3 separate regions of the Homo sapiens genome follow, and regions 1 and 2 are each linked to region 3. The links come from fine-mapping of genetic effects on gene expression. A gene starts in region 3. Each other region holds a variant in brackets. All regions are shown on one strand. Distances are from middle to middle.

Region 1 (4,239 bases), 49 kb before region 3:
GCCACTGCACTCCAGCGTGGGTGACAGAGTGAGACTCCGCCTCAAAAAAAAAAAAAAAAAAGAGTAAAAAGAGTGAGGGGCCTCAAAATCTGGAGGTGCTAGGCCCTCCCTAAGGTTCAAGGAGGGTTGAGGCTGGAGGCTCAGACTCTCCCTGAGGGTTTCTTGGTATGTTTGTGACTCGCAGCTCGCTGAAGCTGTGGAGTCAAAGCCTTGCCATCCTGGGAGAGGTTGTTGGGAAGTCAGGCTCCAAGCCATTTCCTCCCCGAGGCAGCTGCTGCTACATGATCCTTATTGCCCTTCTTTTCCTGGGGAGGTGAGGCCAGATATCACCCTTTCTCCTACTACCCCAGACCTGCCTAGGCGTCTGCCCCGGGCTTGGTCATTGCCAGCTGAGGTCACTAGGGAGCTTTAGAGCTGTGAGTTCTGTTTTCTACCAGATGCTAACCCCAGGGCCCACTGCAGCAAAACAACATAGAGTAGGGAGGAGAAAGGGAGCTACTGGCTGGGGAATTTCCTAGCACCCAGTTAGCCAGACCTGTCCACACATTGCCCCTAGGCTTTGGCAGACAAGTAGCTCCGTTCCTCCTTCTGTACAGACTTACCTGCGGGTGGAATTGTTGACTCTCAGCACTGGTGCAGGCCCTCAGAAACAAACAGCATCAAGCTGTTCTTATAGCAGTAACAGGGAAGCTGACCCACAGAGGGGATGTGAATTGCCTGAGGTTTTTCAGCCAGTGAGTGGCAGAAGTAGGGCTTGAACCGACTCCTCTGACTCGTAAGCCAGGGCTCTGTGCACTGGGCTGGGTTGCAGTTCTTGATTTCTTCTGTGGAAGCTGGGCTCTTCCTCTTTAGAGTGCTACGGCTCAAGGCTGGGCTGTCACCCAGGAAAGAGCCCTGACCCTAGAGAACAGACTAACGAAATTCCACAGCTCCACCCCTGCCTCCACCAGGTGGGATAATTCATTGTCCTTCCCTTTCCATTGGTAGGATTTCCCCTTCATGAATTAGGTGGGAATAGGAAAGCATTCTTCATAGAAATGTGAAGTGTTCTTTAAGCTGCCTGGCTGTGAAGCCAGCTCGGGGGTTTAAAAGCGTGGGCTGACCGGGCGCAGTGGCTCACACCTGTAATCACAACACTTTGGGAGGCCAAGGCGGGTGGATCACCTGAGGTCAGGAGTTCAAGACCAGCCTGACCAACATGGTGAAACCCTGTCTTTACTAAAAATACAAAAAATTAGTCGGGAGTGGTGGGGGACGCCTGTAATCCCAGCTATTCGGGAGGCTGAGGCAGGAGAATCACTTGAACTCAGGAGGTAGAGGTTGCAGTGAGCTGAGATTGCAACACTGCACTCCAACCTGGACAACAAGAGCAAAACTCACTCTCAAAAAAAAAATAAAAATAAAAGCATGGGCTGCAGTCATTTGAACCACCTCTGGCCTCGGCTAAGCCACTGGTACTCATATTTGCATCTTAGCTTCCCTTTACTTCCCTGTGAAATGGGATAACAGTCCCTAACTCCTAGAATTGTTTTGAGGATTAAAGGATATCATACGTATTGCCTGATCCAGAGTAAATATCCCATAGTTAGCTTTTCTTTTTATCAGCCTAAAAGTGTTACTTGGCGACTGTTGTCTTCTTGTCACAGTGTGTTTATGTCATCCAGCTCTGGGGGCTTAATTACCATATAGATTAGGTTTTAACTGGATTTTCATAATAGCACCTAAGGAGAGGCAGATTTTTAAATTTCCATTTTCCAAATAAAATACAATTTTCATGACGTTAACTCATCTGGAAGTCTTCTGCAGCTTTATTGTAGTTGTTAAATCTTTTGAAAACAGGGTGGAGTTTTTATGATAGAAGGCCTGGAAACTGGGACAGAGTGAGCATAGAAATGATTGGGATAATGAGGGTGACTATTGAGGTGAGGAGCGGAGAAGGCCAGGGCAAGGGGGGGAGTCATATTTTGGGAGTATGAGTGGGGCGGAGACAATTCAAACTCTTACAGAGAACAAAAGGCAGGTTAGGGGAAGGGTTACTTCTGCAAGTGGGTTGATAGGAAATTGGAAAAGTTTTTATATATAAGCTTTTGTACTGTTTGCCTCTTATGATGAGCATGTAAATATTTTAATTTAAAAATATTTTAATGTTCCTTTTCCCCTTTTGGAAGCTGGTTGCTGTTGACAGCTGTCTCTGTAGCTGGCTGTGGAATGAGGTCTGACTTAGGCAACCAGGCCCTGGAGAAGCAGCAGGACCTGCTCCTCCTCTCCCCAGCAGGCCTGGGGCTGGGAGAGATGGGTGGGAGCACAGGCCTGTCATCAGCTGGCTGTGCCACACAGCTTAGAGGAAAGAGGAGGGTTTACCTGTACCCCTGACCCAGGTACAAAGGTCACAGAGGCCAACAGAGGAGGATTTGCGTTTATAAATTCCTCAGTATCCATGGAGGGTGGTTCCAGGCTCCTCCGTGGGACGCTTAAGTCACTTACATAAAATGCCATGTTGGCCTATAGACTGCGCACATCCTCCTGCATGCTTTAAATCATCTCTAGGGTACTTA[T/C]AATACCTAATACAATGTGAATGTTTTGTAGTTACAATGTATCTATTTTTTATTTGTATTTTTTAATTGTTGTATCATTGTATTCTTTTTTTCTTTTTTTTTTTTTTTTCTTTTTTTTTGAGACGGAGTCTCGCTCTGTCGCCCAGGCCGGACTGCGGACTGCAGTGGCGCAATCTCGGCTCACTGCAAGCTCCGCTTCCCGGGTTCACGCCATTCTCCTGCCTCAGCCTCCCGAGTAGCTGGGACTACAGGCGCCCGCCACCGCGCCCGGCTAATTTTTTGTATTTTTTAGTAGAGACGGGGTTTCACCTTGTTAGCCAGGATGGTCTCTATCTCCTGACCTCATGATCCACCCACCTCGGCCTCCCAAAGTGCTGGATTACAGGCGTGAGCCACCGCGCCCGGCCGTATTCTTTTTTTTAAGACGGAGTTTTGCTCTTGTTGCCCAGGCTGGAGTGCAATGGCGGGATCTCGGCTCACCGCAACCTCTGCCTCCTGGGTTCAAGTGATTCTCCTGCCTCAGCCTCCCGAGTAGCTGGGATTACAGGCATGCGCCACCACGCCCGGCTACTTTTGTATTTTTAGTAGAGACGGAGTTTCTCAATGTTGGTCAGGCTGGTCTTGAACTCCTGACCTCAGGTGATCCGCCCGCCTCACCTCCCAAAGTGCTGGGATTACAGGTGTGAGCCACCACGCCCAGCCATATCATTGTATTCTTAAATTTTTTATTTATCCTCTTATTGGGTAACTGATATAATTTTATTTAGCTCTTATTGGGTAACTGATATACTGGGCTCATTTATCCTTACTATAACCCTAAGAAGTGGGTAATCTTATCCCCATTTGACAGTTAAGGAAACAGGCTCAGAGACGAGGTTGGGTAACTTGCTTAAGGTGTCAGAGTTGGAACTCAAAACCTGTTCTATGTAATGCCAGGCTTCCCTTGTTTCCAGGCTGTGCTGGAGACAAGGATGGGTGGGTAAGCTTCTTAGGCCTTTATTATTCAAAGTGAACTATCTAGAATCAAGGGAGATCCTTTAATTTTCACTTCCTGGATATGATGGGAGACATTGACACAGAGTCTAACTTCTATTGAACTTTCTTATAAGTTTCAGTCTCTGCCCTTGACAGTATATTCTAACCCTTGTAGCCTCCTCTTCTGCCTCCACCTCTTGCTCATTAGGTCCACTGGACTGTGGTTAGATCTGATTGGCTCATTTCATACTATGTTTGCTAAATTATACAGATTTGGTTCATCCCCAGGGTCTTAAAGATAGGAGGTGGGATGATGTCTCAATTTTATAGATTGAAAACACTGACCACTATTCTATATACTTTGTCTTCCTTCAATCTTCAAATTAATCCTACAAAGTAGGTAGTAGTACTAGGTGATAATTTGACACGGGAGGCAGCTGAGGCAGGGGGGATGCCCAGCCAGTAAGTGGTGGAGGGGGTAGAAGTGGGATTCCAACTCGGGTAGCCCAGCTCCACAACTCCTCTCTTACCTTTGTGCTACGGCACCTGGGCCTTAGCATCAGAGAGGCCTGGGTTCTCATCCTAGTTGCAGAACCATGGATGACTTAACCTTTCCTCAGATTCCTCATCTGTGAAATGAGGAGGATTAAAATACCTACCTTACAGGGCTGTTGTGCTTGTTACATCTCATTGATACTATGTGAAGCAA
Region 2 (4,239 bases), 27 kb before region 3:
TGCCTCGATCTGTGAACAGAAATATAAAGTTAGCAGAAAAAGGGGGGATGATTTTCCATTTTTGTAATGGTGGACTAGGTATTCTGGACACTCGGACTAACGCTTCTACTGAGAATGACTACAAATGCTGGATAAAATATTTTTAGATCTTTTTTAAGGTACTGGAGATTTTAATAAGACCACAAAGGATTTAAGAGTGAAGATATGGGAGAGAAAGGAAATCCATGGGAGGACGTGGAGCCCAGCACTGTGGCTTCTTTTCCCCTAGAGCACCTGCCAATTTGGAAAGAGCTGGCTAAGAGCTTGAGAGGTAGAACAATTATAAGAGCCTTGTGGAGCTAGAGAGACAAAAACTATAATCCAGTGACTGATCAGGGGTAAGGGACCCTCGTATATCATCTATGCTTTGGGTTACGACCTGAAGCACTACACCTTGGAAATACACTAAGCTCCCCTCAACACCTGAAATTAAAGTGATACTGGATTGCTATTGCCCTAGATGCTTGCCAAAAGAAATCTTCCTCCAGACAGGATTTACAATGACATCTTAGGCCTTTATACAGCTCTACGATTTCTGATAGGCAGTATTTGACAATGAAAAACAACCAGGTACACAAAGAAACAAGATGACAGGAATAAAAGAGAAACAACTGAAAATTAAAACAGATCTGTAGGGGCTCCAAACAATAAAAATATACAGACTTTAAAATGTTCACAACAAAATCCTTAATATGTTTAAAAAGATAAAAGTCAAGATTAAGAATATCAGCAGAGGCTGTACCTGAAATCCCAGCATTTTGGGAGGCTGAGGAGGCAGAGAATCACTTGAGGCCAGGAGTTCAAGACCAGCCTGGGCAAAATAGCGAGACCCCATGTCTAAACAAATTGTAAATAAGATTAGCCAGGTGTGGTGGTACGTGCCTATAGTCCCAACTACTTGGGAGGCTGAGGCAGGACAGCTTGAGCCAAGTGTTGGAGGCTGCTGCAATGAGCTATGATCATACCACTGTACTCTAGCATGGGCAACAGAGTGAGACCCTGCCTCAAAAAAAAAAAAAAAAAAATCAAACCTGAATTTGATCAAGCCTTTAAACTCAAGCAGTAAATTTACAGGAAACACAGAGAATTGGGGATGCCAAATCCACAATGTGGAACTTCTATAGGGCAAATATCCAGTTTCTTCAACAAATAAAAGGCAAGGGAAAAAAAAAGATGTGAAACTTTCCCTAAATTGAAGACATTTAAGAAACATATTAACCTGGCCAGTCACAGTGGCTCATGCCTGTAATCTCAGCATTTTGGGAGGCTGAGGTGGGAGGACTGCTTGAGCCCAGGAGTTTAAGACCAGCCTGGGCAACATAGTGAGATCCCATCTCCAAAAAAAAAACAGAAAGGAAAGATATTAACCAAATGTAATATGTGGACCTTTATATCATAATTTCAACAAGCCAATTATAAAAATCTTTTTTTATGAAACAACTGGGGTAATCCAAACACTGATGGGACATTAAATACTGATTATACTGAAAAAAAAAAAAAAGTCTTTATCTCTTCAAGAACATATGGAGGTATCTATGGATGCTATAAAATGATGTCTCAGATTTGCTTTAAAATAATCCAGCAGTGGCCGGGCGCGGTGGCTCACTCCTGTAATCCCAGCACTTTGGGAGGCCGAGGTGGGCGGATCACGAGGTCAGGAGATCGAGACCATCCTGGCTAACACGGTGAAACCCCGTCTCTACTAAAAATACAAAAAATTAGCCGGGTGTGGTGGCGGGCGCCTGTAGTCCCAGCTACTCGGGAGGCTGAGGCAGGAGAATGGTGTGAACCCGGGAGGCGGAGCTTGCAGTGAACCGAGATTGGGCCACTGCACTCCAGCCTGGGCAACAGAGTGAGACTCCGTCTCCAAAAAATATAAAATAAAAATAAATTTTAAAAAATCCAGCAGTTCCAGTCAAAGCCTTAGTTGAAAAAAAAAAAAATCCAGCAGGGATGGGGGTAGCAGGAAGTGAGACCTTACATAATAACTGTTGAAGGTGGTAACAAGTACATGGGGTTTATTATACCAGTCTCTCTACTTTTGTGTATTTTGAAATTTTCCTACTAACCAGCTAAAAAACTATTTTAAGTAAACTATGGGTCAGAGAAGAAATGAACAATGGAAATTAGAAAATACAGTCTCCATCTATAAACTGAGAGGATAAAAAAAATTTCAGTATATTTTATAATGATTATGGTAAAAAAAAAAAACACTTGTAAGATACAACTAAACTATGCTTAAGATGAAATTAAAGTCTGAAGTGCATATATTAGAAAAGAAGAGCCCGGGCTCGATGGCTCACACCTGTAATCCCAGCACTTTGGGAGGCCAAGGCAGGCAGATCACGAGGTCAGGAGTTCAAGACCAGCCTGACCAATATGGTGAAACCCTGTCTCTACTAAAAATACAAAAATTAGCCGGGTGTGGTGGCATGCACCTGTAGTCCCAGCTACTCGGGAGGCTGAGGCAGGAGAATCACTTGAACCTGGGAAGTGGAGGTTGCAGTGAGCCAAGATCATGCCACTGCAATCCAGCCTGG[G/A]CGACAGAGTGAGACTCCGTCTCAAAAAAAAAAAAAGGCCGGGCGCGGTGGCTCACGCCTGTAATCCCAGCACTTTGGGAGGCCAAGGCGGGCAGATCACGAGGTCAGGAGATCGAGACCATCCTGGCTAACACGGTGAAACCCCATCTCTACTAAAAATACAAAAAATTAGCCGGGCGTGGTAGCAGGCGCCTGTAGTCCCAGCTACTCGGGAGGCTGAGGCAGGAGAATGGCGTGAACCCGGGAGGCGGAGGTTGCAGTGAGCCGAGATCGCGCCACTGCACTCCAGCCTGGGTGACAGAGCGAGACTCCGTCTCAAAAAAAAAAAAAAAAAGAAAAGAAAGAAAAAGAAAAGAAAAGGAAGGGAAAGGAGAAAAGGTAAAAATCAATACTCTAAGAGAGAGGATTCTGGGAAGATGGTGGAGTAGGAAACAACAGAAATCTGTCTCCCCACGTGGACAACAATTGTAGTGGCAAAAATCTGTCTGATGTAATTATTTTGGAGCTCTGGAGTCTATGGAGGGCCTGCAACTTGCAGGGGAAAGCCTGGACAGTAAATTGTGGTTAATTTCATTCAATTTTGGCTCTTAGCCCCACAAGCAGCTACCCATCCCCCACCCTTCAGCCACATGGCAGCCAGATGTGCACAAGTTCCAGGAGCAGCTTGCAAATAGCTTGAGGGTGCCAAGGTGGGCAAAAAGGACCCTAACATCATAATGGTGAAAGATTGCAAGGTTTTCCTCTAAAATCAAGAACAGTGAAAAGATGCCTGCTTTTACTTCTATTCAACATAGTACTGGAAGTCTTAGAGCACTGAAGCAAGAAAAAAGAAATAAAAAGCACCCAAATTGGAAAAAAAAAAAGAGGGAAAATTATGTCTGTTCATAGATATGATTGTGTAGGTGCATAACCCTAAAATTTCCACACAAAAAAATAACTACTAGAACTAATAATTCAGGAAAGTAGCAGCATACAAAGTCAATCCACAAAAAAATCAGTTGCAAGCCAGGCGCAGTTGTTCACACCTGTAATCCCAGCACTTTGAGAGGCTGAGGTAGGAGGACTGCTTGAGCCCAGGAATTCGAGACCAGTCTGGGCAACGCAGTGAGACCTCATCTCTACAAAGAATTTAAAAACTAGCCAGGCGTGGTCCTCACACCTGTAGTCCCAGCTACTCGGGTGGCAGAGGTAGGAAGATCACTTGAGCCCAGGAGTCCGAGGCTGTAGTGAGCTATGATTGTGCTACTGCACTTCAGCCTGGACAATAGAGCATAACTCTGTCTCTTTAAAAAATAAAACTAAAGGCAAGAGATTGAGAGAAAATATTTGCAAATTATATATCTGATACGGGATTAATAGCCAGATATACAGAGAACTTTAAACAAATGTATAGAGAACTCAACAATAATGACCAAAAAAAATTCAAAAATAGGCAAAGGACTTAAATAGACAGCTCCAAAGAAGATATATGATTGGCCAATCAGCACATAAGAAGATGCTTACCATCACTAATCATTAAGGAAATGCAAATCAAAACTATAAGATAACATCTTACACCCATTAGGATGGTTACTATCAAAACAACAGAAAACATTCAGCAGAATGCAGATTAAATATGAAAAGGAAAAAACAGAAAACAGTAAGTGCTGGTGAGAAATTG
Region 3 (4,239 bases):
CCTCCCGAGTGCTGGCACCACAGGCACTTGTCACCACACTCAGCTAATTATAAAGGCCATAAGAGTAACAATCATGGCTTTTCAAGCCTGACAGAACCTAGCATCATGCTGTACTCACATTGTTTAAGAAATAAACATATGGATACACAGATTGATGTGAGTGGTATTTGGGAAGATTTGCTCCAATCTTGGCACTATATTTTATTTATTTATTTATTTATCTAGTGAACCAGAAATAAAATTATAAGCCCCCCAATCAAATGAATGGCCTCCTCTTCTGGGCCAAGGGCATTCCTAAATTAACCTGAAAAACTATTTGAGGCCATGATGAGAAGTGGGAGTCAGACATGCCTCATTATTTTCTCCTGCTTTTGGAATTCAGGACCAGCATTTAACATTAAAGCAGAGATCTTAAGGTTGACACAGCAGACTCTTTGTAGCAATGATACCAACATTGACAGATAGCAGGCCCCATCTGTCATGATAGCAGGCAAAGGTGTCTTTTATGGTGAAAATCTACATTCTGTAGAAAATCCCCTTCCCTTTCCAGGTCTTTTTCCTGATCCAGGGGAGAACTAACTAAGAGTCTGATACCTTTCTAAATCTGATAATAAACACTGGCCAGCCTTGGTGGCTCACACGTGTAATCCTAGCACTTTGGGAGGCAGAGATGGGAGGATCACTTGAGCCCAGGAGTTCAATACCAGCCTGGGCAACATGACAAAACACCATCTCTACAAAAAATACAAAAATAAGCCAGGCATAGTGGAATGAACCAGTAGTCTCAGCTACTTAGGAGGCTGAGGTGGGAGGATAACTTGAGCCTGGGAGGTCAAGGCTGCAGTAAGCCGTGATCCAGCTACTGCACTCCAGACTGGGTGACAGAGGGAGACCCTGTCTCAAAACAAAAAAAAAAATAAAGAAACATTTACAATCTATGCTCTCTGGAGCCTGCTACCTGTAGCCTTCTCTGCATAATAAAAACCTTGATTTCCACAATTCCTTGTGTGTGTGTGTGTGTGTGTGTGTGTGTGTGTGTGCGTGCATATCTTAGTAACAATTCCTTAACTTAACCCAGACATTCCCTTCTGTGGGTTCCAGGTCTTTAAACTCTTTCAACCAATTGTCAATCAGGACATCTTTGAATCCACCTACATCCTGGAACTTGCCACCCCCACCCCCACTTTCGGGACCAAGCCAATGTATATTTTACATGTATTGATTGATGTCTTACGTCTCCCTAAAATGTATAAAATCAAGTGGTGTCCCGACTATTTTGGACACACATTCTTAGGACCTTCTAAGGCTGTGTCACGGGCATGTCCTTAACATTGGCAAAATAAACTCCTAAATTGATTGAGACCTGTCTCAGATACTTTTTGGTTTGCAATTTATTTATTTGAGACAGGGTCTTGCTAGGTCGCCCAGGCTGGGGTACAGTGGCAGAATCATGGCTTATTGCAGCCTCAACCTCCTGGGCTCAAGGGATCCTCCCACCTCAGCCTCCTGAGTAGCTGTGACTACAGGCACCCACCACTAGGCTGGGTAATTTTTTTCTTCTGTAGATACGGAGTCTCCCTGCGTTGCCCAGGCTGATCTAGAACTCTTGGGCTCAAGCCTCCCGCACTCCTGAGCTCAAGCCGCGGCCTCCCGAAGTGCTGGGATTACAGATGTGAGCCACTGCGCCTGGCCAGGTACTATATTTTAAACAAAAAGGATCTAGATAATGACAAGGACAGCACAAATTCCTATAATGAATGCAAAAGTGTCTTGATATCACAATGTCTAGCACAGAGTTATTGGAGGCTATCCTGCCTAGCGCGTTACAATTTACAAAGCTGCCTCTCTGAAGCTGGATTTAGGATCTGCCTTAAACTCCGCGGCGGGGCCCTTGACAGCAGTGGGGACTGGAGCAAGATCAGAGCCGCTCGCGTTGATGGTCACTGTTGCTTCGGGCGCAGGTTTGGTTTTCTTTGGGGTTGCCATTTCAACTAGACGGCCTCTGGGTAGGCCAGATCTGGATCCTCTGTCTTTATCTGCGTTGCAGAGGTGGGACCACCCCTCTTTCACATAGTCAGCCCGGGTTCGCAAACACTCGGCCCCGCACAAAGATGGCGTGGAGCCGGGCTGGGCCAATGCGGAGTGGCGTTGCTCCCGGTTGCCTAGGTAACAGCCAATGGGCAGCGGGAATTGTACCCAGTGCGGTCGCCCAGGATGGCGGCGTCAAGTGGGGCAATCGCTGGTGGAGGTGGCGGAGAGCAAGGTGGCAGCCGGGAGCCCATCAGAGGAAAAGTCCGAGGCGCTGGAACCCTGCGTCCAGGCGTGACGGTCATCCCGAAAGGCCGGCCCCAGGTTGGCTGGAGGCGCAGGAGGGAGGGGGCCGGGAAAGAGTGTGATCGGTCAGGTGGGCACTGAGGAACGGAGCACGAGATGACCCGGCTCGGGGGCGCGGCTCCACCTCGGATACGCTGACCTGAGGGCGGTTGCCTGTGGGGGACCCAAACCTGAACCCTTTAGTCTCCACCGCGGGGGTCGAGGCCCGGGAGAGCTGACTGGACTGGGGTTAGCGAGCAGAGGGTGGAGGGTTGCATCAGGGGAATTGGCAGACCTGTGTGAGCGTTAGACCCTGCCGGGCGGGAGAGCGGGCCCGGATAGCAGGAAGGAACGCGCCTGGAAGGTGAAAATGGGGTGCGAGAAGGTGTTGCCTTGTTGTGGTCTAGGGCTTTGTTTTCCCTGAGCCCGCCTTTATCTCACTGGTGGAGAGAACTCCCACATATGGAAGCCTGGGGAATGGGATGCTTCATTTAGTTGATGGGTGGTATCCCTGCATTCTAGCATCTCTGAACTGCTTAGGTACCAGCAGGAATAACTGCTATATCGGAGTCCAGCCCTGGCATTCCCTTTCCCGTGAAATAGGATAGTATTCTGGCAGTATTACTCCCTAGTCCCAATCACCCCCAGGTCATCATCGCCTTTAAATAAAAAAAAAAAAAAATCTTTTTGGCGCCAGTATTTTCTTCCCACTTTCTTCAATCTAACCATCCCACAGTCTTCCCTAAACGAACCCTTCATATAGCAACGATACATTTCTTTACTTTTCACATGAGGAAAGAGGAGGTTAGACTTATAATGAAAAACAGTTATTTCGAGCTCCTTTTAAAACACTTAAAAAAAAATATTTAGGCCGGGCGCGGTGGCTCACGCCTGTAATCCCAACACTTTGGGAGGCCGAGGCGGGTGGATCACGAAGTCAGGAGTTCAAAACTAGCTTGGCCAAGATGGTGAAACCTCGTCTCTACTAAAAATACAAAAATTAGCCAAGCATGGTGGCACGTGCCTGTAATCCCAACTACCCAGGAGGCTGAGGCAGGAGAATTGCTTGAACCTGGGAGGCGGCGGTTGCAGTGAGCCAAGATCCTGCCACTGCACTCCAGCATGGGGGACAGAGCAAGACTCCGTCTCAAAAAAAAAAAAAAAAAAAAAAAAGGGGAGTATTATTTGACTTTTTGTTCTAGGTTCCTAACAAGGCTAATCTTTGTTCATCAAAGCCTTCATTTTCTTCTCTTTAGGATTCTAAAAGCTTATGAACTGCTTTCTTTATTACTGAAATAATTTGACAAGACTATTGTACCCTGGGAAGGGTGGTTCTGGGGGGACATGTGGGTAGTTAGGGTGGCTGCCTCCACCCAGTATTCTCTAACTGGATCTCCCCCACCGCCCCAACCTTTTGTTTTGTTTTGCTTTTCTTTTCTTTTTTTTGAGACAAGGTCTGGCTCTGTTGCCCAGGCTGGAGTACAGGTGTGGTGCAGTCACTGCTCACCCCGGCAGCCTCAAATTGTGGGCTCAAGCAATCCTCCTACCTCAGCCTCCTGAGTAGCTGGGACTACAGGCATGCACCACCACACCCAGCAAATTTTTGTATTGTTTTGTAGAGATGAGGTCTCACTACGTTTCCCAGCTTGGTATTGAACTCCTGGGCTCAAGCGATCCTCTTGCTTCAGCCTCCCAACGTGCTGGGATTACAGGAGTGAGCCATCATGCCTGGCCCTTTTTCCTCTTTATGTCAGTTTTTTTTTTTTTAATCCTCTTAAATTGGACACAGTTTACTGTGAATACAAAAATGTTGTTTAATACGTTGATTTCTTAAAATTAGAAAACGATAAAAAGAACGGAAACAAAAATTCTCGTTATTGCCTCAGAGTTCTGTTTGGAAATAAGAAAATAATAATAATTAAAAAG

Which allele goes with the higher level. Alleles are on the strand shown, and positions count from the first base shown. SD is a standard deviation of normalised expression in the study named.
For the expression in pancreas of the gene that starts at base 2,199 in region 3, allele T in region 1 goes with a higher level than allele C (moderate effect, 0.52 SD a copy in GTEx).
As copies of G replace A in region 2, the expression in Th1 cells of the gene that starts at base 2,199 in region 3 goes up (large effect, 0.89 SD a copy in Schmiedel 2018).

What was found. PIP is the estimated chance that this variant, and not a neighbour inherited with it, causes the effect. A credible set is the group of variants that fine-mapping cannot tell apart.
Region 1: its variant is the best candidate, but not a certain one, in a credible set for the expression of MORN4 in pancreas (GTEx, PIP 0.56).
Region 2: its variant is the best candidate, but not a certain one, in a credible set for the expression of MORN4 in Th1 cells (Schmiedel 2018, PIP 0.64).

What each region holds. Positions count from the first base shown.
Region 1 is chr10:97,680,320-97,684,558 of GRCh38, reverse strand. All of the region lies in intron 1 of AVPI1 (arginine vasopressin induced 1), which reads left to right. Among named protein-coding and RNA genes, the nearest start is that of AVPI1, 4.8 kb to the left of the region's middle. The variant T/C (reference allele first, on the strand shown) is at 2,556.
Region 2 is chr10:97,658,677-97,662,915 of GRCh38, reverse strand. It overlaps PI4K2A (phosphatidylinositol 4-kinase type 2 alpha), which reads right to left. Exons shown (of 9, transcript NM_018425.4): 5 at 1-9. Among named protein-coding and RNA genes, the nearest start is that of PI4K2A, 20 kb to the right of the region's middle. The variant G/A (reference allele first, on the strand shown) is at 2,580.
Region 3 is chr10:97,631,460-97,635,698 of GRCh38, reverse strand. MORN4 (MORN repeat containing 4) reads left to right here and starts at 2,199. Exons shown (of 5, transcript NM_178832.4): 1 at 2,199-2,352. RefSeq lists an enhancer at 1,846-1,935.